Regions from separate parts of the Homo sapiens genome. Here region 1 is reported to be linked to region 2. Evidence: microRNA targets listed by miRTarBase, many of them from high-throughput screens and not tested one by one. Region 2 holds a microRNA gene; the other region holds the end of a gene's coding sequence.

Region 1 (11,179 bases), not on the chromosome of region 2:
AAAAGAGACAAATATTCATGCAGAAAAATGGTAAATAATGTATGTAGATACTCCATTCTCAGGAAGGTGGAGCATAACTCCCTACTTGGTAGGTGTGGGCTGCTTATAGTGACTTCCTCAGAGTACAGAACTGAAAGAGGGAAAATAAAAAGCAATTGTGGAGAAACCTGACAAACACAACCTCAGCCGGGCAATCAAGGTCAACATCAACAGGGAGCAGTCATGTCCATAGTGTGTACCCTTGATATGACGTGATGAAAACAGCACTTTAGGCTGGGCGTGGTGGCTCACGCCTGTACAGCACTTTGGGAAACCGAGGCGGGTGGATTGCTTGAGCTCAGGAGTTTGAGACCAGTCTGGGCAACATGGCGAAACCCTGTCTCTACCAAAAGTACAAATCAGTCTGGCGTGGTGGCACATGTCTGTGGTCCTAGCTACTCGAGAGGCTGAGGTGGGAGGATTGCTTGAGCCTGGGAGGTGGAGGTCGCAGTGAGCTGAGATCGCACCACTGCATTCCAGCTTGGGTGACAGAGTGAGGCCCCATCTCAAAAAAAAAAAAAAAAAAAAGAAAAAAAGAAAAAAAAAGAAAGAAAAAGAAAAAAAAGCACTTAATCTGTATGGTCTTCCTCCCAAACCCCATAATCTCATCCTAATCATGAGAAAAAAGGCAGACAAATCCCAGTCGAGGGAGATTCCACAAATACCTGATGAGTACTTTTTGAAACTGTCAGCAAAAACCAAAGTCTGAGAAACTCTCAACTAAATAGAACATAGGATCCTGGATGGGATCTGGGAACAGGAAAGAGACATCATGGAAAACAAGGAACTCAGAACAAAGTATGGACTTTACCTAATAATAGTGTATCCATATTGGTTCCTTAATTTTAACAAATATAACACAGTGATGTGAGATGTTAATAACAGGGAAGATGGGGTGCAGAGTATATGGGATCTCTCTGTGTCATCTTTGCAACGTTTTCTGTAAATCTAGAACTCTTCCAAAAAATAGTTTCTTAGCAACCAAGACAACCATATACCTACCACCTAAACTCTACCTTTCACATGTTACTCTCGTGCATCTGTCCCGCCCTCTGTCACTCTTTTCTTTTCTTTTTTTTTTTTTTTGAGATGGAGTTTTGCTCTTGTTACCCAGGCTGGAGTGCAATGGCACCATCTTGGCTCACCACAACCTCCGCCTCCTGGGTTCAAGCGTTTCTCTTGCCTCAGCATCCTGAGTAGCTGGGATTACAGGCTTGCGCCACCACGCCCGGCTAATTTTTTGTATTTTTAGTAGAGACAGGGTTTCTCCATGTTGGTCAGGCTGGTCTTGAACTCCCGACCTCAGGTGATACGCCCGCCTCTCCCTCCCAAAGTGCTGGGATTACAGGCTTGAACCACCGCGCCCGGCCTCTGTCATTCTTTTCATAACCCCCTTAGACTGTCCCTGCCTTTTTGCTCAAAAAGGCGTCCAGGACGCTCAGGGCATTTGGGTCCACGACATCCCAGGTTCTCTGTTGTTGCCCAGATTTGCCCTAGAACGCTCCATTCCCTCCAGCTCAGAGCCTGCTGAAAACAAGGAGCTCTACTGCCACCCAGTGGACATTTTTAAAAAATGAAAGCAAGTTGACTGCAGGGAAAGCTCATGGGGACCCCGCAAGGCAGAGAGGCCCCTTCAGGCGTCTTTGAGCTGCCTTAGCACCATTGGGCGGGCTCTGCCTCCACATAGACCCTAGCCCTCTCTCCACTGTCCCCATCCAAATTCTTTTCTCAACCTGGACGTTTCCTAAAATTCTGGCTCCAATTCCCAATTGTGCAATCATTTTGTTGGGCTAGACTATACCTTTCAAGTCTTTTTTTTTAAAGGGGGCAGAACATGAGAAAATCTGGGGTTTTCCAGTTTTGCTAGCATGTTTGATGACCATGAAGAACTATTTGGGAGCAGATAGTGTGTCCTATCCAGCTGCTTTTGAAAGGATAAGAGTCAGGGGGCACTGGCTGACTGGGGGACAGCAAGCCTGTGTCGGGGGTCTCAGAACAGCTTCTTTAGGCAGTAGGAGCTGTGGCCAAGAGCGGCTCTGCTGAGCTGGGCTTCTCCCTACCTGGTGTCAGGCTTTGATGCATACTCGGGGGCCAGCCTCTCTTAAATATTGAGGCAAAAGAGACAGGAAGGATGCTTCCAGAAGGGCAGGCAGCCCTGTTTGCTGTCTCACTGGCCTCCTCTTTCAGGAGAGAGCCCTCTCATCTGGCTGATCACGGGCATGGCTGTGAGTTAGAAGAAACAAAATGAGCATGTCTTAGTTTGGGTTACCCCAGAAGCACACCCTCAGATAAGGGTTCCAGTGTTGGTTATTTATTTGGGACTTGATCCCAGGAGATACTACAGAATGGGTTGTGAGCCGGGGATGGAAATAATCTGACAAAAGGTTCCTAGCAAGCTGGTTAATGCAGTGGGCATCGGAGCTCAGCCCTGCTGCGGGCTCTGGAAGGCAGGAGTGCAGCTGTCCCAGCTGAGGGCCAAGGACACTGGCAGCTGAGGGCTGCTTCTGGGGACAGTCATTCCTGCATTTGGGGCCAGAGGAGAGTGCCGAGGCAGAGTCACAGGTATTCACAATAAGCAGAAGCGGGTGTCAAGGACGATGTGGGGCACTGACAGGGCCCTCTTAATGTGTTTGGATGACACAGGTTGGCACCCAACCCTACCTCACGCCCCGGATCTTCAAAGAAGTGAGTTCCCAGAAACCAGCAGGTCCTCAATGGCTTAGGGAGAGCCCAGGACCACACAGAGATTCAGCTAAGCGTGAAAAGGTGCCCCTTGGGTTAGGAGGGGACTTGGTGCAGAGGGACCCTCACCTCCTTTTTCTCCACACAGGTGAGGACTTTAAGATGATGGGATATATGCAAAGGTCCCCATGAATGTGTGTGAGCAGTGTTTCTGGGGAGGGGTATTTGCTCCCTGGGATTGGTTTGGGCTAGAGGGGTCTTGAGGTCTTCATGCTGCAGTTCACGGGGAAGAAAGAGGGAGCCATCAGGGGTGCAGTCTTGCCTGGAAACTTCCTCTGGGCAGAAGCCTCCCCAGCTGGCCTGCGGCTCTTCCTGCCTTTGCACGCCAGTTGCATCTCAAGGAAACAAGACTCAGCTACCAAAACTTAGTGCTAGACCATGCTGTTTCCACGGAACACCAATATTTAGGTGATAATAAATTATTACCAAGGGAAAGGGGCTCTTGTGAGCTAAAGCTCATCTGTAAAACCTGTCAATCTTGTGCAGAATGTTGAAAAAATGTCACTCTTTTCCAGAAATCTCTGGGGTCTGTCTTACTACTGAAGTGCTACCTAGAAAAAATAATAAAAATTTAACAAATTGCAAAGGATGAAATCTTCTGCATAGAAACCAGGGGGTCTGGCTGGGGGTGGTGGCTCATGCCTGTAATCCCAGCACTTTGGGAGGCCGAGGCGGGCAGATCACGAGGTCAGGAGATCGAGACCAGCCTGGCTAACACGGTGAAACCCTGTCTCTATTAAAAAATACAAAAAATTAGCAGGCACCTGTAGTCCCAGCTACTCAGGGGGCTGAGGTAGGAGAATGGTGTGAACCCGAGGTGGAGCTTGCAGTGAGCCGAGATCGCGCCACTGCACTCCAGCCTGGGCGACAGAGCAAGATTCCGTCTCAAAAAAAAAAAATAAAAAAATAAAAAAAGAAAAGAAACCAGGGGGTCACGGTCCTTGGAGATTTAGCTCCCGGCGGACGTGCCCTCAGGTGGAACCTACCCCACCTTCCAGCCACAGTGGGGACGGACACTTGGCTGCCAGTTCTCAGACATGAGCAAGGTTTTAGAGGACACTGTAAGGGCACACACAACATGAAGGCCTCATATAGCTGTGCAGTGACACAGCCTTGTGCAACCACCACCATCCTCTTCAGTCAGCGTGAATGCTGGTGGCAGGATTCCTGGAGGTTCGAAAGCTTAAGATCCTTATTAGGCACTTCTTGGGTCTAAAGTGCTCGGTGGCGGAGGTGTGCTGGTTGACCGCAAGCAGACTGTCAACGGGTGAAAGCGGATGGTATTCGTAGAGAAAAGCTCCAGTGGGTCTTTCTGCAGTACTGAGATTGCTGACTGGGGAGAATCTTACCCTGTCCTTCATGTCTTCTGGAAACCAGATGGTCAGTGAGGACACAGCCATGGCCAGGGAGAAGATTCCTGACACATCCGGGAGTACCTGAAGGGCGGTGTGTGCTGGGCTGCCCGCTCTTCCCCTAAAGGACAACTTTGGCACGTTGGCAGGTGGGCTTTCTCATGACCGTGAGTGGCTCTAACCTCCAGCATGAACAAGGTATTGGGCACTGACTGCAGCCTCAGAGCACTTCCCGATCAGGACCTTGTTGGAGCCTAACTAGGAAGGCTGGGTGAGAACTGCACTACTCCTGAGCTGCCTGAAGTGCAACGTTCTGGAGCTTCTTTGGCAAGGGGAGGAGGGCATTTGATGGGGGATTGTGGTAGGAAGTGGAATTTGAGCTGAAGCGTGAATCCAGTCCTCAGCCTGGTGATCCTTATAAGTGGCCAAGTCACAAGTTATGACTTAATGGGCCCTTGTCACCTTTGGGGAACTACAACGTACAAGTAGACTGAACTACTTGACAGAAATAACAAATAGGACATTGTTATTCGGATGAAGTGTTTTTGGCAAGAGCATGTCCCTTGCCTTCACTCCAGAGAATAAGATTTCATTTACTGACAGGGGTTAAAGTCGAGGGCAGGGCTGTGAACTAAGGATTACGAGGCACCCTGGAAGGCAGACGAGGGACATTCTTTACGGTGCCAGAGTTCTTGTGCCTGCTTCCACGGTCCCCTCGCCTTCATGATCATTTCACATCAGTAACCTGTGAATACTCCGGGCCGAGTGTTCTAGTTTAGCCTCGCGGTGTTGCTAACAGCGCAAGAGAGGATCTACTCCTCAAACGTTAGGGTCTAAGAAATGGTACCATTAAAAGGTGTGATTTTACTCAGGAAGGGTAAGGAAAACATGAGCACGGGGGCGGTGGGGGGGAAGTGAAGCCCCTGAACAGGGAAAAAGGCAGACAGGAATGGGTGTTAACTGTCCCTCCACTTTCAGTTGGTGATAAAATTCGGGCTTGTGTGTCTCCTGATGAAGCTGTTCACAGTAACACAAATGCAACTGTCTATAACACATCATAAAGACAGACAATGCTGTTTCTCCAAAATTTTATTTTAATTTAAATTACAGGGCCAGCCAGATATTCTGATAAGAAATTCACTTTTCCTTAGGAGAAAGAAAATGCTTTCATGGCATTGTTAACAAATGTATACATCTCCACTTTTTTAAGGGTTAAAAATCACATTAAGTAACTGCCTTATGTAAAATTAAACCTTTATAACACAAAAACCACTTCCAGTATAATAGTCTTGGTAATATGAATATATTAAATGATCATAACTTCAAATGCAACATTTCAAACTTAAATGTTTTCACATTGTTTTGCTTAAAAACAAAACCCACGAAGTCTGAACTACCTTCAGATTCCAATGTAAGAGTAACATGAATGTTGTGTCTGACACGCTGCACCCTCACTTCTTCCACCTAAAAGGCTACGACCTCACTGCCAAAGTGGAAGCTGTTCTAGATGTGTAAGTTCTAAGAATGAGCTTGGCAAGAAGACGTTTCTTCCACTTGGTGTAATCCATGTTTTTACACTAACTCCATACACACAGCACTACACCACAAAGCCAGGACACCACATCACGGCCAAGTCTTCCTTCCTAAACATCCAAGAGATTTTTTTTTCAAGGAGACTAGATTGCCTTATTTCACACAGATTCTGGTAAAGACAGTCTTGAGAAATGCCAATTATGATGTAGACTGCCATTTTAATAAAAATAAAATATATCTATATTTTCTGGAGCTATTTTCCTAACTGGTGTTCCTGAAGGTTTAAAACCTGCTGAAACAGCAATTGGGAGGCCCATTTTACTGGCCAGTATATAATTCCATTAGTAAGAGAGGCTAGCAAAGAATAATCATATCAATTTCTTAATCAGCTGCAGCCATGCTGAATTTGAACTGGCAAACTCTGATTTGTCAGTTGTTAGTTGTGATCTTCATATCACTAAAATGAACAGATACCATTCTAATAACTTTACATAGATATAGTCTAGAAGACATTGTTCTGCCGTGGTCACAGTAACAAAAAAGTGGTGCAAAATCAGTTACTTTATAAATACTGATAATTTGCAGCATTAAGGAACAGGACATTAAAAAAAATAAATTTCCCCATAGGACACCTATGACTAGGAAGTCGTCTTTTCCTAAGAGAAGCCAAAGTTTTAATTATTCAGTTCACAACTATTGTACTGGGTTACTTAGTCTAAGAAAGAAAAGGTGCTCTACAGAGATTTCCCACACACACAAAGAATCAGCATTAATTTAGCATAATCTCTATCATTCACAGATCTGGCAGATTCATTAACTCATTTAAAATGAATAAGGCCAATAGGATGCAGGAAGGTGTGGCTGACTGAGCTCCAGGGCTGTATCGCAGCTTATTGATGGCACCCCATTAGGTAACTGAATACAAAGGACTGGTTTACTTTCTTTTTCTTTTAATGCTGTGATACTTAAATGTTAAATCAGCATTTTCATGTGATCTGAAGTATTTCAATTACATATGAGCATTCATTGTTTTTTGCAAAAACTCAGTATTAGGTAATAGTTACATACTACTACAATAACATTCCTCTGCTGTACAAATTAAACCATTTAAAAGAAATGAGCATTCTAAGAATTATATACAAAAGAAACCTTGAAGCAGTGTTGAAATGAAATGCAAGGTGTCATTGCTAGCTCTACTGTTTTAAAGTATCTTTGAAAAGTAAAATTAACAAATACCCTTCAACATATCCAGGTTTACAAGTCTCAAGAAAATCAAATGTCAAAAAATTCTAGAAAGCTGTGAAAAGCATATATACATTTTCCTTATGATCTTATGAGGCTTCTTTACACTTTTAAGAAGTTGCTAAGTTTCAGTATCAATTTATTCGCATGTCAACTTTAGCTGCCCCCAAACTCCCATTTTGGATAGCTCCCCTCTGATTTCAGATAAAGCTCTGCGTCATCTTCCTTCAGCGAAGGTGCGCGACCTGAAGGTGCGCGATCTGACGCAGGGATGCCAGGTGTGCACTTGCCACACTGCACTCAGATCGCCAACAAAGATGGGTGCAAACACATAGGTCTAATCTGATATCAGTGCCCTCTTTCCTAAACCACACTCTCATCCATACATTTGCCTTCATGAACCCAGCCATGTTCAGAACTCCCGTAGCACAGTCTTTGAATTCTGAAATGACACAAAGATCAAGAGAAAGCCCACATGTGCCCTAGTGTGCAAGCAGCAGCAGCTACGATCTCCAACCTGGACTGAAAAACAAAAGGGTAAAATGAAAAACCGTTCACTTAACAGCAGATTAGCAGTAATGTTCCTCATGAATCAATAAGAGTGCCTGATGCTGAATAGCTAACAGCAAATGCTGAATTTGGATTTAACATAGATGTTTATTGGAGATTAAGCTTCTTGCTGAGCTGGTCTCTTCAAATCCCTGATCTGTTTAACTAAATAGGTCTTCTCGTCGTTAAACTGCTCATCCTCCGTCCTGTCGTTCTGAAACTTGCTGAGGAACTCTATGAGTTTGGCCTGGTTCTTGAGGAGGATGTCTAGGATGGGCTGCGTCTTGTTAGGATTGGCTACAAACACCTGCGTGGAGAGAAACGCACATGAGGCACAGAGAAAGGACAAAACGCAGCCACACCTGAGCTGCGGCCACAGTGCAGAAAAGCAGAGCTGTGCTCTCCTGGGATGGCGCTGAAGTCAGGGTCATTAGGTTTTGCTTTAGAAGGCGTTATTTTACAATTTGGAAAAAAAAATAATAATTACATGTTTTAACACAAATACGACTGATAAACTCATTCTGCCAGCCCTGCAACACAGTGTTTAGTATTAAATACAGACTTTGATTTTAGAATAAAATGGGCAGAAATTATTTCTCAGCACAAGAGGTCAGATGGGATTTTAAGAATGAAACCTCCACAGAAAGCATTAAGAAATGCTTTTGTTTTGCAGTTACTAATCTTCTAGGCCAAAGATAAATGACACTCTTCTATGAACAAACCTTCTCGTTCCCAGATCCAAACAGTAACCCGTTTCCAGGTCTACCTTTCTGTTTAAAAGTCATAGCACACAAATATGAAAAGTGACTGAATTTAATTAAGTCACCTGGATTACCAGAGTGAGGCTAATAATTTCCGTTATTTGCGAATGAAAGACGACGAACAATTCCAGTGGACAGTATCACTGATGCTTCTAGTACTCTACCTTAAAAACGTGAAAGGCCTCAAACTGGATGTTGCGACTTTTGTCTCGCAGCAGGTTCATCATTAATTTGAGGTTCTCAGGTTTACTGATGTATTTTGTCATAATTGTGAAGTTGTGTCTATCTAGTAGTAGTTCACCGAGAAGCTGAGAAGACATTTAAACAATTACCTTGTTATTAAAACTTAAAGAAAAATCAAAGTTTAAAAAAACAATTTATTTTATAATCATCAAGTATAGAGTATTAGTAGGCACTCAAAAGACCGAAGAACTGAACTGAATTACAACCTAAAAGCTACGAAGGGCCTTCTCTCTGCCACCTGAATGCCTTCCTCCCTTTCCCTGAGAGATGAAGTCTACGGGAGGCCTGACGCTTCTCTCTGCAGAGGATGTTCAAGATGCCCCCTTGGCCCCAGTGGGAGACTCTCAAAGCCTCCCCTTTAAGCGTGCATTTGTGTTAGCTCACTAAAAAGAAACTATTCAAGAAAATGGTCAAAAGTTATTGATTATTCCTGTTAACTAACCACAAACCTTAGCTTAATTTAAAACAACTATTTTTAAATTTTATTTAGCGGGACTTTCCAAGATAAAGGGTTTTGTGTCCAAAGTTTTCCATTTGTGTACCCTGCACATGCCACAGTTATCGTTTTATCACAGCTAATTCAGAAAGGTTTACACAAGTGAGTATTTTTCTGCTCCTTCTTAGGTCTCCTGAAGATAATCCAGTGTTTTCTTACTGACCCCTCACCATCACTAATTATACCAATTAATGCTAAAAAAACATCTGTTTACTTCAAGGGTTTACTAATTTCTGGAGAGTTGGTTATATCATATAAACTCATAACTTTTAAACTGTCACGGCTTACTCTTTCCTAAAACCAGCAGTCACTTCTTCAGGTTGTCAACATGCCAACAACCTGGCCAAGGCTGAGTGTGCAGAGCCGGCAGTGGGGCAGGTGCCAAGCTGCGGTCCTTGTGGGCGGTGGCAGAGCTGTGGAGAGCTTGGTCCCTGGTGCCAGCCTGCCTGGGTTCCAATCCTGGCTCCCTACTTCTTGTGAGCTCTGTAATCTTGAGCACGTTACTGAACTCCTCTGTGTCTCGGTTCCATCATCTGTATAATGGAACAGTGCCTCTCTCTCAGGAGAGTGCAGTGAGAAACGAGCATCAGTGTGCAAAGCACGTATCAGGCCTGTATCTGCAGAGATGTGAGTGAGTGAGGGCTAAGGGAAGAAAAGGCGCAAATAGCGGCTCTGTGGCTTTGCTTTAATTGCTTTTGTTGCTTCCTTTCTGGGTTTCTGGCTATGTTCTAGATACTTGAAGTTTCCAGGTAACTGATCTCTGGATAAGTAACTTGTCATCATATTAAATAAAAAATGAGCTGATGTACAAGAAAACAAATCTATTTTACTTAGGCTTTATAAGGAACTCATAGGAAAAACTGAAAGGAGTAGGCTTCATATCAATGTGAATCACAAAATCTATTCTTACGGTGAGAAGCAACCAGTATCTTACAAAGACTGAAAAGTTAGTATTATGTGATTTATAGCTTTCGTGTTCTTTTTCTATCACAGAAACCAAAGAAAATCTGAAGGAAGATGACTTCAAATATGTAATTCTTTTTTTATTTTTTGAGATAGTCTCACTCTGTCACAAAGGCTGGAGTGCAGTGGCACAATCTTGGCTCACTGCAACCTCCACCTCCCGAGCTCAAGTGATTCTCATGCCTCAGCCTCCCAAGTAGCTGGGACTACAGGCTTGTGCCACCACACCTGGCTAATTAATTTTTGGGGCTAGAGACAGGGTTTCACCATGTTGGCCAGGCTGGTCTTGAACTCCTGACCTCCATCCATCCACCCACCTTGGCCTCCCAAAGTGCTGGGATTACAGGCGTGAGCCACCATACTCAGCCCAAACATGTAATACTTTACTAAAAAACTTGGGAGTCTTGCATAGGGAATATAAATTTGCTGGCGACATAAATATGGGAATAAATAAATGCCAATGTGGCTACGAAAAAGAGAGTACAAATTAAAATCCATCTTTAAAGTACGGCTGGTGCTGAAGCCGCTCCATGTGTTCATGGGGCACTCACAGGCCCACCGCTAACATAAACTGCAGGAGCCAGCAACTTGCTTTATATCCATTCCTAAGGGCTTGGAAATGGTGGTCTCAGCCTTTCTTTTCATGTTGGTAATTCTGAATGGCAGAAGGGTCTTGAAGGCCTTTCTCCTTATCCAAACAGCCCAAGAATCCAACATTTGGTCAAAGTTTATGGATTTGCCAATAACCTCCACCCTGCACCCCCGGCCCCAGCTTCCTCCCACAATGGCCCTAGAAGCTACTAACCTAGGCTATCCTGTCTGGCCTTTGTGGCCTTAGAAGATACTGACTCCAGTGAACTGTGTGCATCTGTATAACTGCTGGCAAGAGTAGTATACCTCAGCCCTTTGAGGATCACAGAGCAGGAGAGGCCCCAGGAACCTCCACTCTCTCACACACTGATGTCCAGGGAGGAGAAACTCCTCCCACAGCTGCCAGGAAGTTCTGTCCAACCCCCCAAAGATGAAAGGACAGCAAATGATCCTCTAAGCCAGGGAAGGTGGGGCCCAAGCAACAGCAATGAATGGAAAGCAAGGGGCCTGGCTGGACTGTGCCTGTTCCCCAGCTGTGGCTGTCACGGATGCCCTGCTGCAGGAATTACAGCCTTACACGGAAAAAAGGCATATGCTGTTCTGAAAGAAAGTGCTGATTGAAAATGTGGACGGTGGAGTGTTCCTATCAAAGGACACAAAGTATTCCA
Region 2 (10,530 bases):
AAGGTAAGGGCATTAAGCAAGATCGTCTCTAAGGCACTCCCAACTCCCAGAAAGCTCAAATTGACATTTGTGTGTTTTATATTTTTACATCATTGTCGTTGTCATCATCCTAGTGACCACCATTTATTGAGCGCTTACTATATGTCAGGTGAAGCTGCAAGCCTTAATTATCTGCAGCTATCTTAAGTTATCCTACAAAGAGCATACTATTATTATCCCCAATTTGGGGGATAATATATGAAGAAACTGAGGTCAGAGAAGTTAAGATACTTGCTCAAGGTCACATAGCTAGTAAGTGGTAGAGCACTGATTTAAACCATAGGCAGTTAAAACTCCAAAGCCTAGAGCTCTTAACCACTATTGGGTATTTCTTCTCTCTTCAAGTGGCATCTCACTAGAAGTGGTTTCCTAAGTCAGTATTGCAACACTTGCTAAGGCTGGATGGGATCCCTCGTCACCTGCCCCACAAGTAGAGAGGAAAAAACACTCTGCAAGAAGAACCTCAGGGCCTCGACTAGATCAAGGACCTGGAGCTCAGAGGGAAGACAAATGGCAGGGTCTGCATTACATGTGTCCCCTTTTCATAATAACAAGGGTTACTACTCATTGAGCATTTCTGAACACTTTACAGACATTGCCTCAACTATTCTTCACTAAAAGCCTTCAAAGCATATGCTACTATCGTCCCCATTTCCTAGATAGAAAAAGAAGGCCAAAAGAAATTCTCTGCCAAGCTCCCAGGGCTTTGCCCAAGCAGAACCCCATCCTAGAATTCACAGCCCTCTCAGTCACTGAAGCAAACAATTAGGGCAAATGTTTGTTTTCTTACCTAAAACACCAAACAGTCATCACAGGCCTTTGGGGACAGTTAATCAATGGCTTTATCCCACCATTTGTGAAAGTCTCTCAGGTCTCGTCTCTGGTCTCCTACTCCAGATCTGGGTAGCAATTCGGTCTCTATCCTGAGGAAAGAGCAGGGTGGGAGCCCAAGGGTCCAGATGCCACCAAGAGCCTGTCAACCCTGTGCCCAGGCCAGCTGGGTGACCTCAGGCCAGGCCCCTCCTCTCTGAGCTCTGTGAACCCAGCTGCTGACCCCTTGGCTCCCTCTCCCTCACTGGGTAGTCCTGAGCATCTCATGAGAGAACTCGTGGTCAGCTGCAAGGAGGACCTTTGGGATTTAGGAATGACAAGAGTAGGAAGAAAATGCAGTCTGTCCAGGGGTGGTGGTAGACCTTGCCCCAGGGTCCCACGGCCATCCAAAGCCCAGCCACTCAGGGCAATGGTGTCTCTCAGAGGACTACCCACCCTGGCCCTCCCCAAGAGCTAAGGCCCACCGCACCTCGCAAGACCTGACACTGGAAATGAACTTGCCAGGGAGTCAGGGGCCTGGGCTTCCTCCAGCCAAGCAGCTGGACCTCAGCTTCCTCTCTTCTGGAAATGGCAAGGTGTACCTGTATCTCCAAGGGCCCCCTGCCCCAAGCCTGGAAGGAGAGGGAGCTGCTCACAGTCAAGGTTCAAATCCCAGGTAAGCCGCTCACTAGCTTCAAGACCCTGAGCAACTGACCTAACCTCCCTGCACCTCAGTTTCATCACCTACAAAATGGGGAAAGCCAGTCTCACAGTTATTGGGAGAAATCCATGCAATAGCACTCAGAAGTCTCTTCACAGATACACAACGAAATAGTCACAGATGAAATGACGTCTTGTACATGGAGATGGAATAAGAGTGACTGCAAGTCTTTAACAGTGGACGCTGGGTGATGGAGGGATGGGGATTCACCATACTGTTCTCTCTACTGTCTACTTCTGTATGAGTTGACATTTTCCATAGTCAAATGTTTAAAATACAAAGTTCTTTCAGAGAACCTGACATTGAAACCTATAAAACGCTCTTCTAGGCAACCACACTGCTAGTCCAGGATAAAAATAATTTCTTGTCCTCCCAGAGCTTTCAATCCAGTTGTAGGAATAAAAGCACACTCAGATACCATGGGATAGTAAGTGGCACAAGCCACGTGGGTGGTGGAAGCAGAAGAAGTTAGCTTCAAAGGCTTTCTAGAGGCTGGACGCGGTGGTTCATGCCTGCAATCCCAGCATTTTGGGAGGCCGAGGCGAGCGGATCACGAGGTCAGGAGTTCAAGACCAGCCTGGCCAATATGGTGAAACCCCATCTCTACTAAAAATATAAAAATTAGCCAGGTGTGGTAGCACATGCCTGTAGTCTCAGCTACTTGGGAGGCTGAGGCAGAAGAATCGCTTGAACCCGGGAGGTTGCAGTGAGCCGAGATTGCACCACTGCACTCCAACCTGGGCGACAGAGTGAGACGCCATCTCAAAAAAAAAAAAATGCTTTCCAGAGAGGGCAGGCTTTCAAGAGGGGGCTTAAAGTTCAGGTAGGCTATGAATACATTAAAATGGCAGGGATGGTGGCGGGGAGAGGACATTCCAGTTCATTCCACCAGACTTGTATTCCATCCCTTCTCAGGAACACTCAGACTGAAGATATAAAACAAGAAGCAGTGTCTGCCCTGAAGAGGCTCATAGTCTAGCATATTCATTCACTCAATGAGGATTGATTAAATGTCTGTTATGTTCCAGGCACGGATCTATTCACTGTGGTGAAAACAAAAGGTGGGTGAAATGAACGAAAATCCTTGCCTTTGTGGAGCTTAACGTCCAGGAGTGATTTCCTAATCATTCAATGAGGACTGATTAAATGTCTGTTATATTCCAGGCACTGATCTATTCATTATGGTGAAAAACAAGGTGGATGAAATAAACGAAAATTCTTGCCTTTGTGGAGCTTAACGTCCAGGAGTGATGTCCTAACACTTAATATGATCTATAGATGAAGAGATATATCTATTATTTGGTGCTTATTCTGTGCCAGGCATGTGTTACATGCTTTAAATCCATGTTGTCATTCGATTTTCACTGACTCTTCACAACAATCTTTTTTTTGAGACAGAGTCTCACTCTGTCACCCAAGCTGGAGTGTAGTAGTGTGATCCTGGCTCACTGCAACCTTCACCTCCCCAGTTCAAGTGATTCTCCTGCCTCAGCCTCCCAAGTAGCTGGGAATACAGGCATGCGCCACCATGCCCGGCTAATTTTTGTATTTTTAGTAGAGACGCGGTTTCATCATGTTGGCCAGGCTGGTCTCGAACTCCTGACCTCAGGTGATCCACCCACCTCAGCCTCCCAAAGCGCTGGGATTACAGGCGTAAGCCACTGTGCCCGGCCTCTTCACAACAATCTTAATCATCATATCTTCTCACTTCAGGAAACAGAAGCTCAGAAAGGTTATGTGACCCGCCAAAGGCCTCGAAGCTGGCAAATCGCAGAACCAAGACTCAAACCCAGTAAGGGGATTCCAAGGTCAGTGCTCTGCTGGCCCTGCGTACTGCCACACAGAAGATGGAACAGCTGGCTTGGAGGTGAGGGAGAGGGCATCGCCAAAACAGTGGCTGGTGAGCAGGGGCTCGCAGGATGAATCATGGAAATGGAGAAGGAAGACACAGAAAAGGGCAGCCTGAGTCTAAGCCTCCAGGAGGAAAATTCAGGGTTTTCCTGGGGAGGTACAGGATCCCAAAGTAAAAGCAGACAGCTCAAGACAAAGTCAAGGGCCTAACTCTCCAACTTAAAAGTACCCGAAGGCCTTCGGAAATCAGGTTTAAGTTTAGGCTTTAATTTTAAAATACCGGAGAGCTAAGCTATCAAGCCATGAAAGTCATGGAGGAACCTTAAATTCCTATCAGCAAGTGAAAAAAAAGCCAATCTGAAAACACTACATACTGCGTGATTCCAACTATATGACATTCTGGAAAAGGCAAAACTGTACAAACGGTAAAAAGATCAGTGGTTGTCAGGAGTTGGGGGACAGAAGAAATGAAAAGGTAGAGCAGATTTCCAGGGCAGTGAGACTATTCTGTGTGATGTTACCATGGTAGATACCTGTCATTACAGATTTGTCCAAACCCACGGAGTGAACCCTAATGTAAACTACAGACTCTGGGGTGGCAATGATGTGTCAATGTAGGTTCATCAATTATAACAAATCTACAACTCTGGTGGGGAATATTAATAATGGGGGAGGCTATGCATGTTGGGGGCAAGGGTATATGGCAAATCTCTGTACCTTCCTTTCAATTTTGCTGTGAACCTGAAATTGTTCTAAAAAAATAAAGTCTTAAAAGAAAAAAAAATGTACTGAGGAGCCATGGGAGATGTGTGAGCAAGAGAGTGATGTCAGATATGCACTCTAAGAGGACTGATCTGCCATCTGGGCTAAGGGCAAATGGAAGAAGACAAAGTCGGGTGCAGCAAAGATCTCTTTGGTAGTAACTGCAGGAATCTAGTTACAAACAGACAAAAACCTAGATCAGAAGGGGAGAAGAACAGAAAGATCAATCCAATCGATTCTGCATCAGCTGAGTGTCAATGGGATGGATATGAGGCACTCCGACTACCTTGTAGGAGGACAGATAGAAACTGACCCTGATCATTTTCTTCCAAATGACTTTATTTGGGTACCCTTCACTCTCTAATAAGAATTATGCTTCTCTTTTTTACGCAAAAAAAAAAAAAGATTGCATGCATGAAAATTAGCTCCATACTTAATCCTGTCCTTCTAAAGTGCTTCAAAGAGAGAATTATTCCAACTTTCATGAGTAGCAGGTTAATGCTCATTTTAGATATACTGTATTATTTCACTCCCAATCGAGAGGGCCTATTATCCCCATTTCAAGGATTGAAAAACAGGCGTAGAGAAGCAGAGGGACTTGTTCTGCATTCTTTCTTTTTTGTTTTTTTGGAGATGGAGTCTCACTCTGTTGCCTAGGCTGGAGTGCAGTGGTGCAATCTCAGCTCACTGCAACCTCCGCCTCCTGGGTTCAAGCAATTCTCCGGGTTCAAGCAATTCTCTGGCCTCAGCCTCCTGAGTAGCTGGGATTACAGGCACACACCACCACGCCCGGCTAATTTTTGTATTTTTAGTAGAGACGGGGTTTCACCACGTTGGTCAGGCTGATCTCGAACTCCTGGCCTCGTGATCTGCCCGCCTTGGCCTCCCAAAGTGCTGGTATTACAGGCGTGAGCCGCCGCACCCGGCCTCTGCATTCTCTCTATACAATCTATGTGCCTTCATTTGCTCAAGGTGCTAGAAAAACACTGATGAACAAAAACTGAGAGTAGCCCCTGTCTTCAAGGAGCTTAGAGTCAAATAGTCTGGGAACACTGCCCACTAATGCTGGCTCTTCTACTTACTCAAAGGTAATTAGTCTTCCACAAGTCAGTGAGTTCTCTGAAACTGTAAGATCTGTACAGCTGTGCAACAGCACCTACATTTTGCACAATATCTATGAGAATGAAATGTAGTAGTGCAAACAGAAGGCTCAGAAAACTGCATGGGGTATAGGGGATACTCAGTAAACGTCACTGATGATGACGATGAAGGAGAAGGCAAGGATCAACACTGCAATATTCTTGTTAGGCATTTCCAAGCCTGAGCCCCCTTTGCAAGACTGCTTCTCACTCGAGCCAGTCTTTCTTCTATTATTCCAGAGGAAGAAGGAAGAGGGTGACTCACGTGGCATAGTGGAACTTCTGCCTGGCCTGCACGAGCTGCTAAGAGGAGGGCCCTAAGGTAAAGAGGAAATATGAGCCCGTGGGGCACAGCTGCTGGGCCATTGCCCTTCCTGGGTTTCACAGGCATCCTGATCATTAGCACCAGCCAGGGAATCCCAATGAAAGTGGAGCCCAGGTCTCTGGTGAACATGACCCCTTCTGGCTCAGGTGAAGAAGTTACTCTCCCTAAGTCTCACACAGATAAAGAATGGGCAAATGCACCCAGTGAAGGCTATGCTTCAATCTTCTCCCACACACTATACATTTGTCCAAATCTACAAACTGATTTGAAAAAGAAGTTGGCCCTGGCTTCAAGGGGTGTGTGGAGCCATTTTCCCAGTTCTCCATGTGGCAGGGGGCCCTTCTGGGTGCTCAGTCCCAGCTTTAGAACAACGAGGAGACAAGATACCAATTGCAAAATGGGCCAAGTTCAGAAACACAGAACCACAAGTCACCCATGATCATATGGGGAAGAAGTTTAGCATCACAAGTAATCAAATAAATGCACATTAAAACAATAAGGGTAACAGAATTTATTGACGAACAGACTGGTAAAAATGAAAAACAATGAAAATATCAACAGTTATCTGGGTATAGGAAACCAGGTGTTCCCAGACCATGCCAGTGCACAAATAAGTACAATCTTTCTAGAAGAGAATCCAGGAATGAGTTTGATGGAGTAATTTCACTTCTAGGAACTTAAAGGAAGAAACAAAGACATACATAAAAAGATATTCGTTTTAGCATTGCTTACAATAGCAAAATAAAAAAATTAAACAACGTAAATGAGTAACGATAAAGGATTAATTAAATACATCTCGGTTCAATCTTCAACAAAACATTATATAATCATTAAGATACTAAGTAGAATATTTACTGATGTGGAAAGATGTTCACAGCATATTGTTTGGAAGAGGAAAAAAAAAAACAAGTTACAGAACAGTGCAATTCCAAGTTACAAATCAGTATATTCAGGATAACTCCTTTTTTTTTTTTTTTTTTTTTTTTGAGAATGAGTTTCGCTCTTTTGTCCAGGCTAGAGTGAAGTGGCGCGATCTCGGCTCACTGCAACCTCCGCCTCCCGGGTTCAAGCGATTCTCCTGCCTCAGCCTCCCAAGTAGCTGGGATTACAGGTGTGTGTCACCACGCCCAGCTAATTTTTGTATTTTTAGTAGAGACAGGATTTCACCATGTTGGCCAGGCTGGTCCGGAACTCCTGACCTCAGGTGATTCACCCGCCTCGGCCTCCCAAAGTGCTAGGATTACAGGGGTGAGCCACCGTGCCCGGCGACTCCATTTTTTAAAAATAAGATGTGATCTATATGAACAGGAAATAAACAGTCTGGAATATACATGACAATTAAGTGGTTATCTTTGGGTCATGTTACATATTTCTCATTTTTTTCTTTATGCTTGGCAGTATTTTCTAACAATTCTATAATTAAATATTTTTAAATAAGTTGTTAGAACTGATGATTTCTAACATTCCCGCTGCCAACTCTGACATTTTGTGCATCTATGACTGATGCCCTAAGCAACTTCAAATAGCCCATATTTAGTGTGGACTTGCTGTGTGGCCTTTGGGGTCTAAAATTTTGCCCACAGCTGCAGCCCTCTGCATTCCTCTCTCCCACACTCGCTGCCCAGCTGTCTCCCCTGCTAGCCTGGGAGCTTCTGCTTGGCAGGACCCAGCTGCACCCCTGTCTGTAATCCATGTGCCTAGCCAAGAGCTAAGCAAAGGAACACAGCTCAGCATACTGACAGGTGCCTTGCAGGCACAATGATAAAAGGTACAACCCTAGTGCTAGAATCTTACTGGACACCAGACTCACACAAAGTGCTTGGTTGTATCACACAGATGCAGAAAACCAAAGGAGAGAAAGCAGGGCAAGCTGGGCTGGGAGAGCCTAGTAGAGGAGAAGGCCATGCAGGACGGGTGAGTGAGGGTACTCTGGGCCAGGGGCATAGCCTGAACAAAGGTGAAGCCACCCACAGTCCTTTGGGATCCATGCCTCAAAGCTTTCCAAGAAACTTTCGCAATCCTTGTTCTGCTAAATTTCCGTACTTTGGCCCCAATGGGTAAAAGTTAAGTCTCCTAAACAGAAGTCCTCCCTCTAATCTAACCCTGGATTAGCCACCAAAGACAACAACAATCTTTTGGGACAAAGACAATGAATTACCATTTAATCCACTTTCCCCAAAGCTCCCAAAGGGAGATGAAGGAGGGGAGGGTCAGGGAAAGTTTGGGGGAGGAGAGGGGGTTGCAGGAACAACCAGAACATCTCACATGCAAACACTGCTCACCCCCACCACCAGGCCATTGGATTCTCTTGCGGCACCACCAGCCCCATTTGACAGATGGAGGAAATGAGGCTCGGAGAGTTCAAATGGCTTGCTCCGGGGTCACCCAGCCAGAGAGTGGGGAAGGTGACTCCACTCAGGCCTTCTGACTCCAAGTCCAGTGCTATTTCTAGGTAACACACAGGACCTGGAGTCAGGAGCCCTGGGTGGCTCTGTCACCCTCTGGCTGCATGGTCCCATACAAGCCGCTCACTCCTCGCAGCCTCTTTCTCCAGCTGTAAAATAAGGAGGAGCACACTGGGCCCGCCCAGGTCCTCTTCCGGCTGGGCTCTCCGAGCCTTCTAGGGGCGGCTCAAAGCTCATCCTATCAATTACATTTCCCAAGTTGGGCCGGCAAAGATCACCAGAAGATCCTCGGCCTGTCATGTGGTTAAATAAAAAAAGCAAATGTCCCAGATTAACTTTCACTGCACTGCTCCTGCAAACACCTGAGTATTCAATTTTCTAGTTTCCTTAGTTGAAATATTTCTGCTAGCTAGGCTCGCTGGGCGGCTAAAGGGCAAAATAATTAATTATTGCTGAGCCAAACACTGAAGATCGAGTTAAAATCCGGGGTACAGTCCAAAGCGGACAGTTCTTGACATGGGTCCCTGAACGAGTCTCCGGCTATTTCAGGCCTCTCTCATCCGCTTTTCAGCCAAGAGATTCGGAGACGCCCCAGGGCAATTTCGAGATCTGGGGACAGAATCTTCCCAGGAGTGACTCTGCCCCTCCTCCCGCACTCAGTGCCCGCTAGCCCCAAGCTGTCGGCTCTGGGGGTACTGAGGCTGGGACCTGCCTTCGGCGCAGACACCGGCGCGGGGCGTGTGACGGAGCCCGGCGACGACGGCGGGAGCTCCACCGCAGTTTCGTCAGAGGTAAAGGTACGCGCCCGGCGCGCGCGGCGTGTGCACACACACACACACACACACACACACACACACCCGCGCGCGCAACCCGCTCATCACACATTCCCCTCGATCTCGAGAAGCGCAATCACACGCCACTAGCCCCTCCGGCCTCTGCCGCGAACCCACCCGAGCGCGCCCGCCACCGACCACGCGGCCCCGCGGCTCCCCTACGCAGCGGCGTCTGCAGCGGGCCAGGGGCGGCCTGCCTCCCGCGTGGCGGGCTTCCTCTCGGCGACACCCTGCCACGCCACGCCGTCCCAGCCGCCAGCCCGAAGTCGCTGCCCGGAGCTGAACGTCTCGGCTGCGGCGTCCCTTCCAAGTCGCGTTTCACCGCAAGGAGTCAGCTTGCAAGCCTCTCCCCGCCCACCCGGTCCCATGACAGCTGCTGCCGCCCAAAGACAGGCAGATTATAACAAGAAGCAAAGTTTCCCTCTCTCTCCTCCCACCTCCCTCCCCCAATCTCCGCCTTCCCCCTCCCTTCCACTGTTATGCAAAACGGGCCGGCACCGGCGCTCCCACTCCAGGTACCAAACCAGCCCCCGCGAGCCGCGCCCGGTTCCGCCCGGCCGCCCCTCTCCGTGCCCAGGCGTGTGCCAGCACCCGGGGCTCCTCCGAGGTTCCGCCGCATCCTCAGCTTCCCAATGACCCGCAGCCGGGCGCCCAGAGAAAAAGCCCTAACTCTGGAGCCAAACTTTATGCTTGCAACAGGCATTGGGTGGGGAAAATGGGGGAAGGGGTGGGGGCCGCGCACGCCTCGTGCTGACATTTTTGGTGGCTGCTTGTCCCAGCAGCACCCCTCTCCCAGTCTCCAAGCCACCAGCTTCCTCGCTCCCCCGCGCCCCGGCACACCAGAGCACCCTCTCCTGTCACGCGCGTGTCGCCAGTGGGGCTCCCGGGCTCAGCCAGTGCCTGGGACTCCGCCTCGCCTTCCCTTCCCCCTGCATCGTGGAGCGCGCACCGGGGCCGCGCACCGCAGGGGGACCCAGGCGCCCCCAGACAGTCCTTCCGCCCCCATCCAGCCTGGCTTTTCCCCCCAGGGGGCTCCGCCCGATAGCGAAACCAGGAAGACGCTGTCTCCGCCCGCATGTCCACGTGCCCCGCAGACCCTTATGCCTTTAGCCGGCAACTGGCAGGAAACTCCGCGCTGCGGGCGCGGGTAGAAAGCCGCGGGGGGCCAGCAACAGCACTCTGGGGACTACAGCCTGGAGGACTAGGGGACTCCGGAGACCCGGGCATGCACCCGTGCCGGGGCCACAAGTCCACGTGAAAGTACGGCAGCAAGTGCCGGGCGCTGACGGCGCGCCTCCAGCACCCAGCGCCAGCCTGAGGGTACCCCACACCGTGGCGCGCCTCCACCTCCCAAAGGAAGCGCGGTACCCCCCAGTTTTGCCCGCGGGGTGGCAGACTCCAAGCGGCCAAGGCTAGACCCTCCCCAGCGGCCGTAGCGCCCCCAGCGCTCCGGCACGCGCCGGGAGACCTCCGGCTCCCTGCCCCGGTAACGGAGCGCATCGCAGGGCGCCTGGAAGGGGGGCTCTGCAGCCTGGAACCCCCAGTTACCCCAGGGCTCCCACCGCTGCCTCCCGGCCTCCGCGGCTGCAGCTGCGGCCCCCGCAGCTCAGCACCCCTGGCCCCGGGCCCGCAGCCCCAGCCGGCC

Evidence for each region. The annotated mature microRNA hsa-miR-378a-3p reads ACUGGACUUGGAGUCAGAAGGC and lies in region 2 at 8,067-8,088, opposite strand. An mRNA with a match to its seed (bases 2 to 7 or 8) in the 3' UTR can be bound and repressed. Matches are read on the target gene's strand: a 7mer-m8 pairs with bases 2 to 8, a 7mer-A1 pairs with bases 2 to 7 and ends in A, and an 8mer does both.
Region 1: the mRNA of CAB39 is a reported target of hsa-miR-378a-3p. Seed matches in the 3' UTR shown: 7mer-m8 at 7,426-7,432.

The regions. Positions count from the first base shown.
Region 1 is chr2:230,815,101-230,826,279 of GRCh38, reverse strand. It overlaps CAB39 (calcium binding protein 39), which reads right to left. Exons shown (of 9, transcript NM_016289.4): 8 at 8,383-8,526; 9 at 5,205-7,764. The coding sequence ends at 7,576. Among named protein-coding and RNA genes, the nearest start is that of ITM2C, 44 kb to the left of the region's middle. RefSeq lists an enhancer at 1,712-1,881.
Region 2 is chr5:149,730,425-149,740,954 of GRCh38, reverse strand. MIR378A (microRNA 378a) reads right to left here and starts at 8,130; the gene lies at 8,065-8,130. All of the region lies in intron 1 of PPARGC1B (PPARG coactivator 1 beta), which reads right to left. RefSeq lists silencers at 8,978-9,207, 9,238-9,327, 9,348-9,397, 9,408-9,507, 10,308-10,530 and enhancers at 9,978-10,027, 10,038-10,157, 10,396-10,530.